4 linked regions of the Homo sapiens genome follow. The protein of the gene in region 1 interacts with the protein of each later gene in a pairwise test. Each region holds a gene or a part of one and is shown in the gene's direction. Other genes may lie near its edges.

The links. The genes of interacting proteins can lie anywhere in the genome.
Region 2: the proteins of PLSCR4 (region 1) and NID2 interact in a two-hybrid assay, tested with the Homo sapiens proteins (one large-scale study listed by BioGRID).
Region 3: the proteins of PLSCR4 (region 1) and APLN interact in a two-hybrid assay, tested with the Homo sapiens proteins (one large-scale study listed by BioGRID).
Region 4: the proteins of PLSCR4 (region 1) and C1orf94 interact in a two-hybrid assay, tested with the Homo sapiens proteins (one large-scale study listed by IntAct).

The regions. Positions count from the first base shown.
Region 1 is NC_000003.12:146,202,606-146,206,105, reverse strand, and holds part of PLSCR4 (phospholipid scramblase 4), read left to right. Parts: intron 1-3,500. UniProt on the Homo sapiens protein: Catalyzes metal ion-induced ATP-independent rapid bidirectional and non-specific movement of phospholipids (lipid scrambling or lipid flip-flop) between the inner and outer leaflet of the plasma membrane and participates in the redistribution of phospholipids between membrane leaflets.
Region 2 is NC_000014.9:52,062,560-52,066,059, reverse strand, and holds part of NID2 (nidogen-2 precursor), read left to right. Parts: intron 1-3,500.
Region 3 is NC_000023.11:129,644,957-129,648,456, reverse strand, and holds the end of APLN (apelin preproprotein), read left to right. Parts: intron 1-539; 3' UTR 540-3,198; downstream 3,199-3,500. UniProt on the Homo sapiens protein: Peptide hormone that functions as endogenous ligand for the G-protein-coupled apelin receptor (APLNR/APJ), that plays a role in cadiovascular homeostasis. Functions as a balanced agonist activating both G(i) protein pathway and beta-arrestin pathway of APLNR.
Region 4 is NC_000001.11:34,200,907-34,204,406, forward strand, and holds part of C1orf94 (uncharacterized protein C1orf94), read left to right. Parts: coding exon 1-126; intron 127-1,177; coding exon 1,178-1,353; intron 1,354-3,500.

The DNA.
Region 1 (3,500 bases):
ATCATTTTCATTAGCTACTCTTGTCACCCCCAAAAACAAACAATATAAATAAAAATAATGGACCCTACAAAGAATATTGCTTCAGGCCAAGTTCCAGAGACCCCCTTCATACAACACAATAACTCCCTAATTAACATCTATGTAGATATTCTGCTGCCACCAGGACATGCAGATCAAAAACTGGGGTAATATGGGAAGTTTGTGCACAAATAGTTTTGTTTAAAAACCCATGTCTGAAACTAAAAAACCTGCTTAATGAAAATAAGATAAAGCTGGCAGAGTAGACGCCTTTTATTTGTGGCGTTGATTCCTGCGGTTTCAGTTACCAATGGTCAACCAGGTTCCAAAAATATTAAATGGAAAATTCTAGAAATAAACCATTCATAAATTTTAAATTTATTCTGAGTAGCATGATGAAATCTTGCACAGTCCTGCTGTGTTCTGCCTGGCACATATATCATTCCTTTGTCCAGTGTATCCACGCTGTAGATGTTATCCATAGTATACAGACCCAGAGTCACATCTTGGTTATCAGATTGACTTACAGTATCACAGTGCTTGCATTGAAGTAACTTATTTTACTTAATTATGTCTCCAAAGCACAAGAGTAGTAATGCTGGGAATTTGGATATGTCAAGGAAAGACCAAAGAGAGGCCATAAGGTCTTCCTTTCCATGTAAAGGTGAAGGTTTTTTACTTAATAATAAAAAAATTCCTATGCTAAGGTTACTAAGATCTATAGTAAAATTAATATGTCCATGAAATTGTAAAGAAGAAAAGAAAAATTTGTGCATAGTATATACAGGATTTGGTACAATCTGTGGTTTCAGGTATCCACTGAGGGCTTGGAAAGTATCCCCTGAGGATAAGAGGGAGACTACTTTATTGGAGATTCCATAGAACCTTCTGAATCTTTTTTGTTGTTGTTTATAGAAAAAGGAAGTGCTGAAATACATTATAAAGAAGAAACTTCCCAATTTAATACTTACCTCCCCAGGTCAACAGCCAAGTATTTCCTCGAGTTCTGTCATTTCTCTTTTCAATTCTGTATATTGACAGGGACCCTGATAATCTTGTGTGCTGAAAACTATTTGTATAATATTATAACATTGGTGTATAGAAGTCAATACAGTTGGATCAGGAAAATTTGGATTTTACAAAAGCCAAAATTTATCCTAAATTATTATTTGGACAAAATTTTGACAAAATGCAAAACTCATTCAGGTGAAGTGCTAGAGTAAACATCTACATTATTTCAGAAGATAATAAAATGTTTGTAGCTTATCAAGTTTAGAAAGTCTCATTTCTATACTTGGTGATAAATACAGAAGTTGTTCTTGGGAATCTAACATCTTCTACAGTCAATTCTCTTTTCAAATTGTATAGCTTTGTTTATTTAAATATTAAAAACTTGTTTCTTAATTTCTTTTATGATTCTGACAGAGGTTAATTTAACGTATTTTATGAGTTTTCCCTTTTAGGAATATTTAGAGTTAAAGAAATAAGTGAAAAAATAAACAAAACACAGGTTTGGACCCAGGCAAACCTGGTTTTTTAATTCTGTCCTACTCTCTAGTAACTCAAAAACTTTGATAAAATTTCTAACCTCTTGCTGCTTGAATTTTATCATCTATAAAATAGTATTATCAATACCTACCTTACCAGATTGTTAGGAGAATTTTTAATGAGATAAGGGTCACAATGTGCCTAATATTTTTGACATAAAGGGCCGTCCCAATGGATGAAAGCTATGTGGCTGTTATTAGCTTAAATACCTTCTTATGTGTGAATGCAAGACATAGAGCCAATCTTTTTCCTCTATCTACCCTAGTCTTTTTGAGATCTCACATGAAGATTACATGAATCTTTATCAAGGTTCCCAAGAATCCTAAAACATCCAAATTAGCACGATTATATTATTTTCAGAGTCTTGGCTTTACCAGTGACTTTACCAATTTGTCAAAGAACTACCCCTTAACAGACACATATTATTGAGTTCCAGGAAGGGACACAATAATATTGAAATTAGGCCAGTTAATAATCCTGTGATGGCCTCTGAGTGTTCAAGTGAAAGAAACAATTGCACATCTCTCACTGTAAATAAGAAAGCTGGAAATGATTTAGCTTAATGAGGAAGGCATGTTGAAAGTTGAGATAGGCCAAAAGCTAGTCTTCTAGCACCAGTTAGCCAAGCTGTGAATGCAAAGGAAAAGTTCTTGAAGGAAATTGAAAGTGATATTACTCCAATGAACATATGAATGGTGAAAAGTAAAAGAGCCTAATTGCTGATATGGAGAAAGTTTTAGTGGTCTAGAAAGAAGATCAAACCAGTCACAACATTTCCTTAAGCCAAAGCATAATTCAGAGCAAAGCCCTATCTCTCCTAAATTCTATGTAGGCTGAGAAAGGTGAGGAAGCTACAGAAAAAAAAAGTTTGAAGCTGGCAGAGGTTGGCTCACAAGGCTTAAGGGGGGAAAAAAGGCACTTTTGTAACATAGAAGTGCAAGGTGAAGCAGCAAGTCCTGATGTAGAAGCTGCAGTAAGTTTTTCAGAAGATCCTAACTATAACAAGATCATTGATGAAGGTGACTCTGCTAAACAACAGATTTTGAATATAGATGCAACAGCCTTCTGTTGGAAGAAGATGCCTTCTAGGACTTTCATAGCTAAAAAGTAGAAGTCAACGCCTGACGTGAAAACTTCAAAGGACAGACTGACTTCCCTGTTAGGGTCTCTTGCAAAACATTACTACTCACTGACAACACATCTGGTCACCCAAGAGCTCTGATGGAGACGTATAAGGAGATTAATGTTGTTTTAATGCCTGCTAACACAACATCCATTCTGCAGCCCATGGGTCAAAGTATAATTTCAATTTACAAGTCTTATTGTTAAAAAAATGAATTTCGTTAGGCTATAGTTGCCATAGATGGTGTCATTTCTCAGACAGATCTGGGCAAAATAAATTGAAAACCATGTGGAAAGGATTCACCATTCTAGATGCCAATAAGGACATTCATGATTCATGGGAAGAGGTCAAAATATCAGCATTAACAGGTGTTTGGGAGAAGCTGATTGCCACTTTTATGATGATTTTGAAGGGTTCAAGATTTCAGTGGAGGAAGTAATTTCAGATATGATGGAAACAGCAAGAGAACTAGAATTTGAAGTGGAACCTGCAGATGTGACTGAATTACTGTAACTCATGATACAACTTTAACAGATGAGCACTTGCTTCTTATGTATAAGCAAAGAAAGTGCTTCCTTGAGATGAAATTTACTCCTGGTGAGAATTCTGTGAACATTGTTGAAATGACAAAGGTTTTAGAATACTACACAAATATAATTGATAAAGCAGTGGCAGTTTTTAGGTGGATTGACTCCAATTTTGAAGGAAGTTCTACTGTGGTAAAGTACTAAAAAGAACATCATGTGCTACAAGGAAATCTTTCATGCAGAGAAGAGTCAGTCAATTGATATGGCAAACTTCATTATCTTTT
Region 2 (3,500 bases), on another chromosome or scaffold:
GAAAACTAGAAATACCATTTGACCCAGCCATCCCATTACTGGGTATATACCCAAAGGACTATAAATCATGCTGCTATAAAGACACATGCACACGTATGTTTATTGCGGCACTATTCACAATAGCAAAGACTTGGAACCAACCCAAATGTCCAACAATGATAGACTGGATTAAGAAAATGTGGCACATATACACCATGGAATACTATGCAGCCTTAAAAAATGATGAGTTCATGTCCTTTGTAGGGACATGGATGAAATTGGAAACCATCATTCTCAGTAAACTATCGCAAGAACAAAAAACCAAACACTGCATATTCTCACTCATAGGTGGGAATTGAACAATGAGATCACATGGACACAGGAAGGGGAATATCACACTCTGGGGACTGTGGTGGGGTTGGGGGAGGGGGGAGGGATAGCATTGGGAGATATACCTAATGCTAGATGACACGTTAGTGGGTGCAGCGCACCAGCATGGCACATGTATACATATGTAACTAACCTGCACAATGTGCACATGTACCCTAAAACTTAGAGTATAATAAAAAATAAATAAATAAATAAATAAATAAATAAAAAAGAAAGGGGAAAAAAAAAAAAAAAGAAAGGAGGATTCTGTTTGGATAGGGGATGTTCTTTCAATTACCCACATTGAAGTTTCTTCCAATATTTTAAAGAGCTCTGGGACTTGAGTTCTTGTTTTAATAGTTCTTTGGAGATAGACTTTGGCAAACAGTAATCTAATTTGCTTGAAGGACTGAGTTCTACATGGCGTTCTTAAAGTTTGGCTTACTAACTTTATATTGCAAAGTTACTGGAAACTGGAAGATTCAAAGCAATGGCATCTTTGCCATTAAAAACAATTGCAGTTGGTGCCCTTTTTCTCCATGGATATTCCTGTCAGGTGTGACCAGATGTTGCACCTGATATTGCAGGAATGTCAAGGTGTAATTGTATCTGAAAAAAAAATGTGAACAAATAGTGTTTGTCAATTCAGTTAATCTGAGATTTCTTGAACTCTCATAGGTAGTTCACAGAGCAAAAAAGTTATGGTGTAGACCTTTGAAATACTTATTGATGGGAGACATAGAGGACTAATGTTTAGCTGTGCTTTTTGTGGGGAAAGAGGAGTGTTTTGTTTTTGTCATTTTAGGGATGGGGTTAGAGACAGCTGAGTTATATAGATCTCTGTAATGTGGGGAATGTTTTGTTTATCTGGAATTTAAGTCAGGTTGAAAGGGCTAAAAAGAATGGATATTGAGAATGAGGTATCAAGAGAGATTGTTCTGAGCAAAAACATGACCCAGGAGAAGGTTGAGAGAGCAACCTATTAGCAAAGGGGCCAGAGAAATGGATGAAGGAGTCACAGGCAGTAACATAAGACAGATGAGTGCAAGGTTGCCCGCTATGGTTGAATATTTGTCCCCTCTGAAAATCATGTTGAAACTTAATCCTCAATGTGACAGTATTGAGAGGTGGGGCCTTTGAAAGGTGACTGGGTCATGAGGGCTCTGCCCTCAGGAATGGATTAATTTATTCATTCATGGATTACTGGATTATCATGGAGTGGGCCTGGTTGCTTTATAAGAAGAGGAATTGAGACCTGAGCTAGCACATTAGCACACTCAGCTTTGTCGCCATGTGATACCGTAAGTACCCTGGCACTCTGCAGTCACCACTAGCCAGAAGGCCCTCACCAGATGTGACCTCTCAACTTTGGACTTCTCAGCCTCCATAATTGTAAGAAGTAAATTCCTTTTCTTTGTGAATTACCCAATTTCAAGTATTTTGTTGTAAACAACAGAAGACAAATTAAGACACTGCCCAATGGAGGCCTCCATCTGGGTGGAGACTGAGACATGTTGACTTGGTTCAAAGGTTGATAGTCATTGATGGAGGTGGTTGGATTTCACAGAGAAAATGAGAGGTAAAAGCAGGACTTTATTGTAGCTTTTTGACTTCTGGAGACAAGGTTTAGAAGAGGGGTGGTCTACAGCCCATCCAAGAGAGTTCAGACTGAGTCTGAGATATCACTGTGAAGATGAAGAGAATAGAGACATATATGGAAATTGGTTAATGCTGAACCATATATGGAAATTAGAAATGCTGACGTTTTGCTGAAGAGTATCAGGAAGGATATAGTATTAGGGATGTGATAGCACTCAGCATTTGTCTTTGAATTTTTGGCAGGATCTGTAGGATTTAGTGCAGTAAAATAAATGAGGGACAGTCCCCCATGTGACAGTGTCCTACAGGCAGTGGGAGATGAAGAACTACACTAAGGAATGGAGGTTAGTGTTCACAGCAAACACTGGAGGCCAGACCCAATGATCCTAGAGCTCTAGAGGACATGTGGTCCTGAGGAAGATGACAAAGAGAACTTTGTGACCCCTATAAGAGTCACCCTAATTCTTCATTTCCATTTTCATTTTCATTTTGATAAGCCTCTATAGGCAAGCCCCTTGAAGAAAAGGATGTCACTATTCTGATTTTTGTCCAGATAGCTGCAGTTAATTAAATGAATTGAAAAAATTAGAAACTCTTAGAGGGGTGTATGTTGCATGCATCAGCCTGGCTCTGATGAGTGTCACTTCAACATTGATTGGGATGTCCTGTACCTGGGAGGGAGAGTCAGGCTCTGGTTTCTGCAGAGGGCTCTGGCTTTTCTCTCTTTCTGATAACAGGGCCTGCAGCCACTCACCCTGATCCTCTCTGTGCTGCTCCTCTCCCTGTGGAGGCCCCTCTCTCCTCTCTGGGATCCTGGGGGAGCTGGGAACCAGTGACTCGTTTGTCAGGTTTGGCAGCCCATCTGAGGGCTTCTCTTTGGAGACAGAGCCTGTGCGGCTCTTGCAAAAGCTTGTATCTAGGAATGTGAGGACCTTTCCTGTTTGGAAGCCAGTCAAGGAGTTTTTTGAGAGGGGGAGCCCTTCAAGACTTCATGAAGTGGGCTCTTTAGCAATTAGATGTAGAATTTTGTAGAACTGACCAAGAACTTTACAAGTGATCATTTAGTGTGTGGGTGGCTTTTAAACAGCCAAACTCTTTTGGCGTGTACTTTGGGATCATAAATTCTACTTAAAAGGAAGTTGTTTCCTTCCTCTGATATTTGCCTATTTTGGTGGAGACAAAGAAATTAAATACTTGCCACCCATAATGAGTGCTCATCTCAAGAACAGTATATAGAAGATGTTGAATAAATTTTAATTGAAATGAATTTGTTGGCTGGTTGAATGAATGAATGAATAAAATAAAGTGCTAAATGCCCAGAGTTCACAGCAAAAAGTCAGACTCTCCTCTTCACAGCTCTGTTTACTACTCTCTTCCCCCCTTCCCCATCCCCTTCAATTCTTCACAGTCTCTACAACCTCCTTATCTTATGGAATTTCTCTAAATTTAGAACCAGGATTCTCTCCTATCTCACATTTATTATGGCAGATCAATGCCAGGAGCTTTGAAAGCTTAGCTTTTTGAAATGGGGTTTTTTCTCCTTCCTCTAGTAC
Region 3 (3,500 bases), on another chromosome or scaffold:
GTCTAGCCCCTTTATTTTACAGACGATCTCCTCGTCTGAGGCCTAGAGAGGGGCTTGATACTTGGGGCCAGTCTCCCTTCCACCCTGCTGCCTGGGGTTGGGGAGGCTGGCCTGCTTAGAGATTTCTAGACATCCTGGTGGACCTTAATGGCTGGGGAGGGGTGCCCAGGGCAAACCTACAGATGTCCAGTGTAGATTGTCGCCAGAGTTGGGGAAGGAGGCAGAGAGCTCTAGGGGCTCTCAGGCAGAGAACAAGAGGACAGTTGTGGCTGTGGTTGCCCGGAGCTGTGAGAAGGAGGGAAGAACCAAGGTGGCAGCAGAGAGAGGAGAGCTGAAGCCTGCCCCTTCCCTGGTCTGCTGGCTGTCCCACTGCAGTGGGGACAGGCAGGCACCAACTCAGGGGCCTTGGGATTGAGGTTTGGGCTGAGTGGAGTTTGGGGGAAAGAGAAGGCGGTCTCCTCTCTCCTCTCCTTTCCTGGGGAGTTCCTTTGGCCTAGGATATGTCCATGACTTCTCTCTTGTCATTTTTGTCTCCTTAGGACTGAAGGGGCCCCCAAGTGCCCACCCCCGGCGGTTATGTCTCCTCCATAGATTGGTCTGCTTCTCTGGAGGCCTCACGTCCATTCAGCTCTCACCTCGCACCTGCTGTAGCCACCAGTGGGCCCAGCTCTTCTCACCTGCCTGCTTCCCCCAGTGGCGTGCTCCTGGCTGTAGTTTGGATGATTCCCGTTCTCTCACAAGAATCCGTCCAGTCCATCTTCCTGGCCCCTCCCTGGACTGACTTTGGAGACCTAGCCCCAGAAAGCCTCCCTTCTTCTCCAGGTCCCCTCCGCCCTAGTCCCTGCCTGTCTCATCTAACGCCCCAAACCTTCATTTGGGCCTTCCTTCCTCATGTCTGCCCTGAGCGCGGGGTGGAAGTGCTCCCTTCTGTGGGCTCCAGCAGATCCCTTGTTTTCCTGTCAGTTGGACCCCTCACCTGGCCTCCAGGGAAGAATGCAGAGAAAAGCAAGGAGAGACTCTAGTTAAGAGGTGCTGGCTGCGGGGATCCAGACAGGGCACATTGGGGGCATGGAAGTGCCAGGGTGGTTTTCAGGAGCTCTGGTGAAGTGGGTGGAGCATCAGCGTTTGCTCAGTTAAGGGAGAGGTAGAGAGGGGCCCGTGAAGTCCTTTGTCACTTCTCTTGCCTTAGTGTGCCTCCCAATACTCCCTTCTTCCTGCCCCCACACCCCATCCCCAGCTAGCCCAAGCTCCAGGTCAGGAGGGGAGGGTGCTGGGCCTGACATGGCTATATACCCTCCCAGGAGTAAAAGCCAAGCAAGAGGTTGTTTTTGCCAAGAATCACAGAATGTTAGAGCTGACAGGACCCTTGAAGGTCACTTAGCCTTCTTAGGCAAACGCCTGCAAAACAGAAGCCTGGAGAGGGGAGTGACCTGCTCAGAGTCATTGCAGAGCCGGGATGGGGACCAGGTCTCCCATCTCCTACTTTATGACGCCCTCTTCCCTCTTGATGATGTCTTTTCAAAGCAAATGAAGTGCCTTTTCCCGAGGCTGGGGCTGGGGGTGGCTGGGAGGGGAAGGGAAGGGAGAGGCAAGCTGGCTGTGAACTGTCCTGTTGTGGGGCTGGAGCTGCTCCCACCTCCCTGACCTACCCCTGCTGCACCATTCCCCCAGCTGGGCTGGAAGGTTCCATAACTGGCCAGCTGCCCCCATAACTGGCAGCATTCCCAGACCCAGGGTACTCTAATAGGGGCGGCTCAGGCACTGAGACTACCGCTCAACCCCAGGGTGGTTTTCAGGAGTCCGAGGTAGCCTTCAATCACTGGACTCCATGGCCTTCCCTTCGTGTTGACCGGACCTTCCTTCCAGGGCTTTTCCTTTGGGGGAGGCGGAGAGGGGAGAAGAAGGAAGGGAAGGGCAGAAGGAAGGAGGGAAGAAAAGAAAGCAAAGGAACAGAAGGAAGGAAAGAAAGATGGGAGGAAGTGCAGCAGGAATAGCACCCTCTCCCCGGGAGGCCCTAGCTTCCGTGAGGGGCCATCACCAGCCATTCCTTGGAGGGGGCTTTCTCCCCTTTTGCTTGAGCAGGGTTCCCAGGAGGGAGAAAGAGAAGACAAGAGCCTGATGCCCAACTTTGTGTGTGTGGGGACGGGGGAGTCAGGGCCCCCCAAGTCCCACAATAGCCCCAATGTTTGCCTATCCACCTCCCCCAAGCCCCTTTACCTATGCTGCTGCTAACGCTGCTGCTGCTGCTGCTGCTGCTTAAAGGCTCATGCTTGGAGTGGGGACTGGTCGGTGCCCAGAAAGTCTCTTCTGCCACTGACGCCCCCATCAGGGATTGGGCCTTCTTTCCCCCTTCCTTTCTGTGTCTCCTGCCTCATCGGCCTGCCATGACCTGCAGCCAAGCCCAGCCCCGTGGGGAAGGGGAGAAAGTGGGGGATGGCTAAGAAAGCTGGGAGATAGGGAACAGAAGAGGGTAGTGGGTGGGCTAGGGGGGCTGCCTTATTTAAAGTGGTTGTTTATGATTCTTATACTAATTTATACAAAGATATTAAGGCCCTGTTCATTAAGAAATTGTTCCCTTCCCCTGTGTTCAATGTTTGTAAAGATTGTTCTGTGTAAATATGTCTTTATAATAAACAGTTAAAAGCTGACAGTTCGCCCTTACTCTTGGAGGTCATGTTCAGGAGGGGCATTCCTTTCCCCTGGGGGTCATGGGTGTCCCCATGCCCACATATTGCACGTGCAGGGAGGTAAGTGCCTGCATCCCAAATCGGTTCTAGGTCAACTGGCCTCAAACTGATTTGCCATGAGCTCACAAAATGAATCCCTATGCTTAATGACCAGGTCACATAAAATCCAGCCCACTTACAGGTTTTCTGGCATCTGTTTGGGTGTCCTAATTTTTTTGGCAGTGTCATTTGAAGAATTTTTTTAAAGCAGTTTATTTAAGAACATACTGATTAAATGCAGGATCGCTACTAAAAATTGTTTTGTATCCTTGGTGGGTGTCTTCTGCTATTTTATCTACTTTTGAACACTTTCAGGACTTTTTAGCCAGTTTGCCTTTCTTGAAAAATGTTATGTTTTCAGCAATAAATACATTTGATAATGACTTTGTTTGTATCATTTTATGTTTCACAAAGTAGAGTTGCTTGATGAATGAGATAGCCTGAAAAATAAAATGCAAAGAGTTCAATATAATTCTGCCCCATCTGTCTCATCACTTCACGTTTGTTGTCAAAATGCCAATATCTTGCAGAACAGAAGGGAACATTGGGTACATGCTAATTTGGTTAATAAACCCATTAGGTGCACACAGGAATACACAGTACAGAGCAAAACTCAGTGAGAAGCAGAGAGGAGGGATCAAAATGGGTTCATTTGATAAATCTCGTGGGAAATCCTATAGATTTGACAAGTATTTAGTGCTAGAAATATACAATTTTAAAGAAAGGGTCTTCAAACAAACTCCCTAAAAAGTCATAAAAATGATCAATAGGAGA
Region 4 (3,500 bases), on another chromosome or scaffold:
CGCCCAAGAAACCTACATGTCCAGCCGAGAAGAACTTGCTCTATGAGTTCCTTGGGGCCACCAAGAACCCAAGCGGGCAGCCGAGACTTCGAAACAAAGTGGAAGTGGATGGGCCGGAGCTGAAATGTGAGCTGACCTACCCAGGGAGGGATTGGAGGGGAGGGGGTTGCAGTGACCCTCACAGGCTTCAGGGTGGCTCTGTCACCAAGTGGCTGTCTTATCTACTGCCTTTCTAGAGGTGTCAGTTTTTAAACCCATAAAATGGGGGCAATGACTTTCTCCCCATATCCCTTGTTGGGAATACAGTTGCTAGAGAAGTGTAGTTGGCTTTCAAGGGTCACGTCAGCATTATTAATGGTCACTTCTGAATATAGCCCTGACCCAGCATGTATTATATCCTCTCAAATTGCCCAAGCCAAAACAAAAGATCCTTGCTTTAGATTATTTCTATATTGAGATTATGTTCCCGCTTTCTTTTCCTACAAGGGTTCTAGTCAAACCTCTTTTCCCAAAAGGATGCCAATAAGGGGAAACTGAGGACCCATTTCTGATTTTATAAGCCCCCACAACATCTTGTAGAAAGGAAGAATCCAGGATTCTGATCTTGAAACAACTCAACCTAACTTCATTTGTTTAGACCAATTTTGAGTCACTGCATGCTGAATTATTTAATGTTTTAAAATATAATTTTTAAAATTCCCATATAGATACAACAACCTGTGAAAGTTTCTTAGTGTTGCCAAATATATGTCCTTAGGGAGGGGCTGCTTTAATCATTTGATAAGGATGAATTCCAATGGCATAGCAATGGTTCACATAAAGTTGGATTTTTCCAAAGCAGTTGAAAGAATTTCATTTTGTAAGTAGGTGAAATATAGGCCTAGCAATCTGGCTTATTGTATTCCCTTGCTAAATTGCCTTCTTTACTAGTGAATGATGGAAAGAAAAGCTCCAAGCCAGACCTTCTGGGATTTTCATCCCTTCCAAACTGGCAAGGTGTGAACTAATGATGTTTACCTATAGTTGGAAATGTACTAGAACTTTGAAGAACCCTCTTGGAGCTTAAAGGACCTGACCTGTGAGACTGTGAATCCCTAAGGAAGTTGCGATGCTGAAGGTGTCCTGGCCTCTCCCTGCCTCCATCACTGACCCGCTTTGCCTCTCCTGTGACTTGCAGTTAACGCACCTGTGACGGTTGCTGACAAGAACAACCCGAAGTACACAGGGAATGTTTTCACTCCACACTTTCCTACAGCCATGACCTCAGCAACCCTGAACCAGCCACTCTGGCTCAACCTGAACTATCCACCTCCACCAGTGTTCACGAATCACTCTACCTTCTTGCAGTATCAGGTCAGTGAGCTGGCCTGGCTCTCCTGTGGACATCCACGGGGGTTTTGGCCACAGAGAAGGAGTGGCTGGCAGGGGGTCTATTTCACAGAGTCTTTAGACTCCTCTGAATCCCTTCCCTACATGCAAGAGGCTTCGCTGGGGCTATGGAAGGGCGCTGTCAACTTGTCAGCTTGTTGGTTATTTTTTTCATTGTAGTCACATCAGATCTACCCCTTGGTTCATGTGCATGCGTGCGCACACCTCCACACACACACACATATGTATATTTAGTCCTAACTTTCCATTGTCCGAATTCCAGTTCACACTGTGCTCTTTATTGCAGAGTCTCTTTGCTAGTTGTGGCTGGTTAAGTGCTTGGGCTCCCAGGAGAAGATGATGTCACAGTCCTTGTTTCCCACCTCTCTCCTGTGACTTCCTTTGAAGTTGGATGACATATATCCCAGATTATTTGGGACAGTCCCAATTTAGGTCTTCTGTTCCAGAATAATATGAATGGCATCCCTTTTCACTCTCAAGTGTCCTGGTTTGGACAACAAATTACAGTCAGCCCTCTGTATCCATGGGTTCCAAATCCACAGATTCAACCAATCTTGGATGGAAACTACTTGAAGAAGAAAACAACAACAACAACAACAAAATACAACAACAAAAAATAATGCGAGTAAAAGATAATACAGTATAATAACTATTTACATAGTACATTATTAGGCGTTGTTAGTAATCTAGAGATTAAAGGATACAGGAGCATGCGCATAAGCTACATGCAAATACTATGCCATTTTATATTAGGGACTTGAGCATCCTCATATGCCATTTTATATCAGGCACTTGAACATCTTTATATGTCATTGTATATCAGGGACTAGATCATCCTCATATGCCATTTTATTTTATTTGAGACAGAGTCTCACTCTATCGCCCAGGCTGGAGTGCAGTGGCATGACCTTGGCTCACTGCAACCTCTGCATCCCAGGTTGAAGCGATTCTCCTACCTCAGCCTCCCAAGTAGCTGGGATTACTGGTATGTGCGCTAATTTTTGTATTTTTAGTAGAGACTGGGTTTCACCATGTTGGCCAGGCTGGTCTTGAACTCCCCGCCTCATGTGATCCACCTGCTTCCACCTCCCAAAGAGCTGGGAGTACAGGGGTGAGCCACCGCACCCGGCCCTCAAATGCCATTTTATATCAGAGACTTGAGCATCTTTGTATGTCATTTTATATCAGGGACTTGAGCATCCTCAGATTTTGGTATCCACAGGGCAGGGGAGGGAGGGTGGTCTTGGAACCAATCCTCTGAGGATACCGTGGAATGAGTGTATATGGCCACCTTACTTAAACTACACCAAGCAGTCTTAGCTTTGTACCAACCAAGGTGGCTTGGCACACATTCTTGTTCTTGGGATCATAGCTAAAGGAGAAAATCAATGGCCAGACACAAAGGGACAGTGAAGCACCTGTAGCAGGGCTGGAAATTCTACTCACAGAACTTATTTATGCAGGGAAAATGTAGTTTCTTTATTTTGTCGATTTAACTTAATATCCCTTAAGAGCTGCCGCCCACTGGGTAGAAGGAGGGAAAAATTAAATAAATGTCCACTCTGGTTTAAGCCTTAGCCCAATCCAATAACTTAAATAGTCCCTTTAGGTAGAACTCAATTTTTTCAGGAAAGATTCTCCATGCCTAAGATTTCTGTCTTCTGTTCCTCGCACTGGCTTCTCTCCAGAATTGTATGTCATTGTATGGGGAAGGGCAGGAACTCAAATTTGTGCACTCAGGACCTTGGCAATTTGCTGCCCCAGCCTGGCCCAGCACAGCCTGAAGTGAGAAAGCAAAGAAGGAAATACTTCCAACTCGGCTTGTCCTGTTGCTATGTCCCTTCCCCGCTCTCCACTCCTAGGAACCCTATGTCATTCTTTCCCTTTCAACACAGCACAAACCTTATGTCCTATTGGGAAAGGGGATTGGCTCTTCTGCATATAAAGACTCTTCAAGCTGGTCCACCAGGCTTAGTTTCTGAATCTTAAAGGAACTTAGCAAAGTCTCTCTCTGTTTTGTTTTCAAGCTTTTTGTTTGTGTGTGTGTTTGCTAAAGAGAACAAGTACCCGTCCCCTCCCGAGGGAGGGAAAGCTCACACCCCATTGTGGAG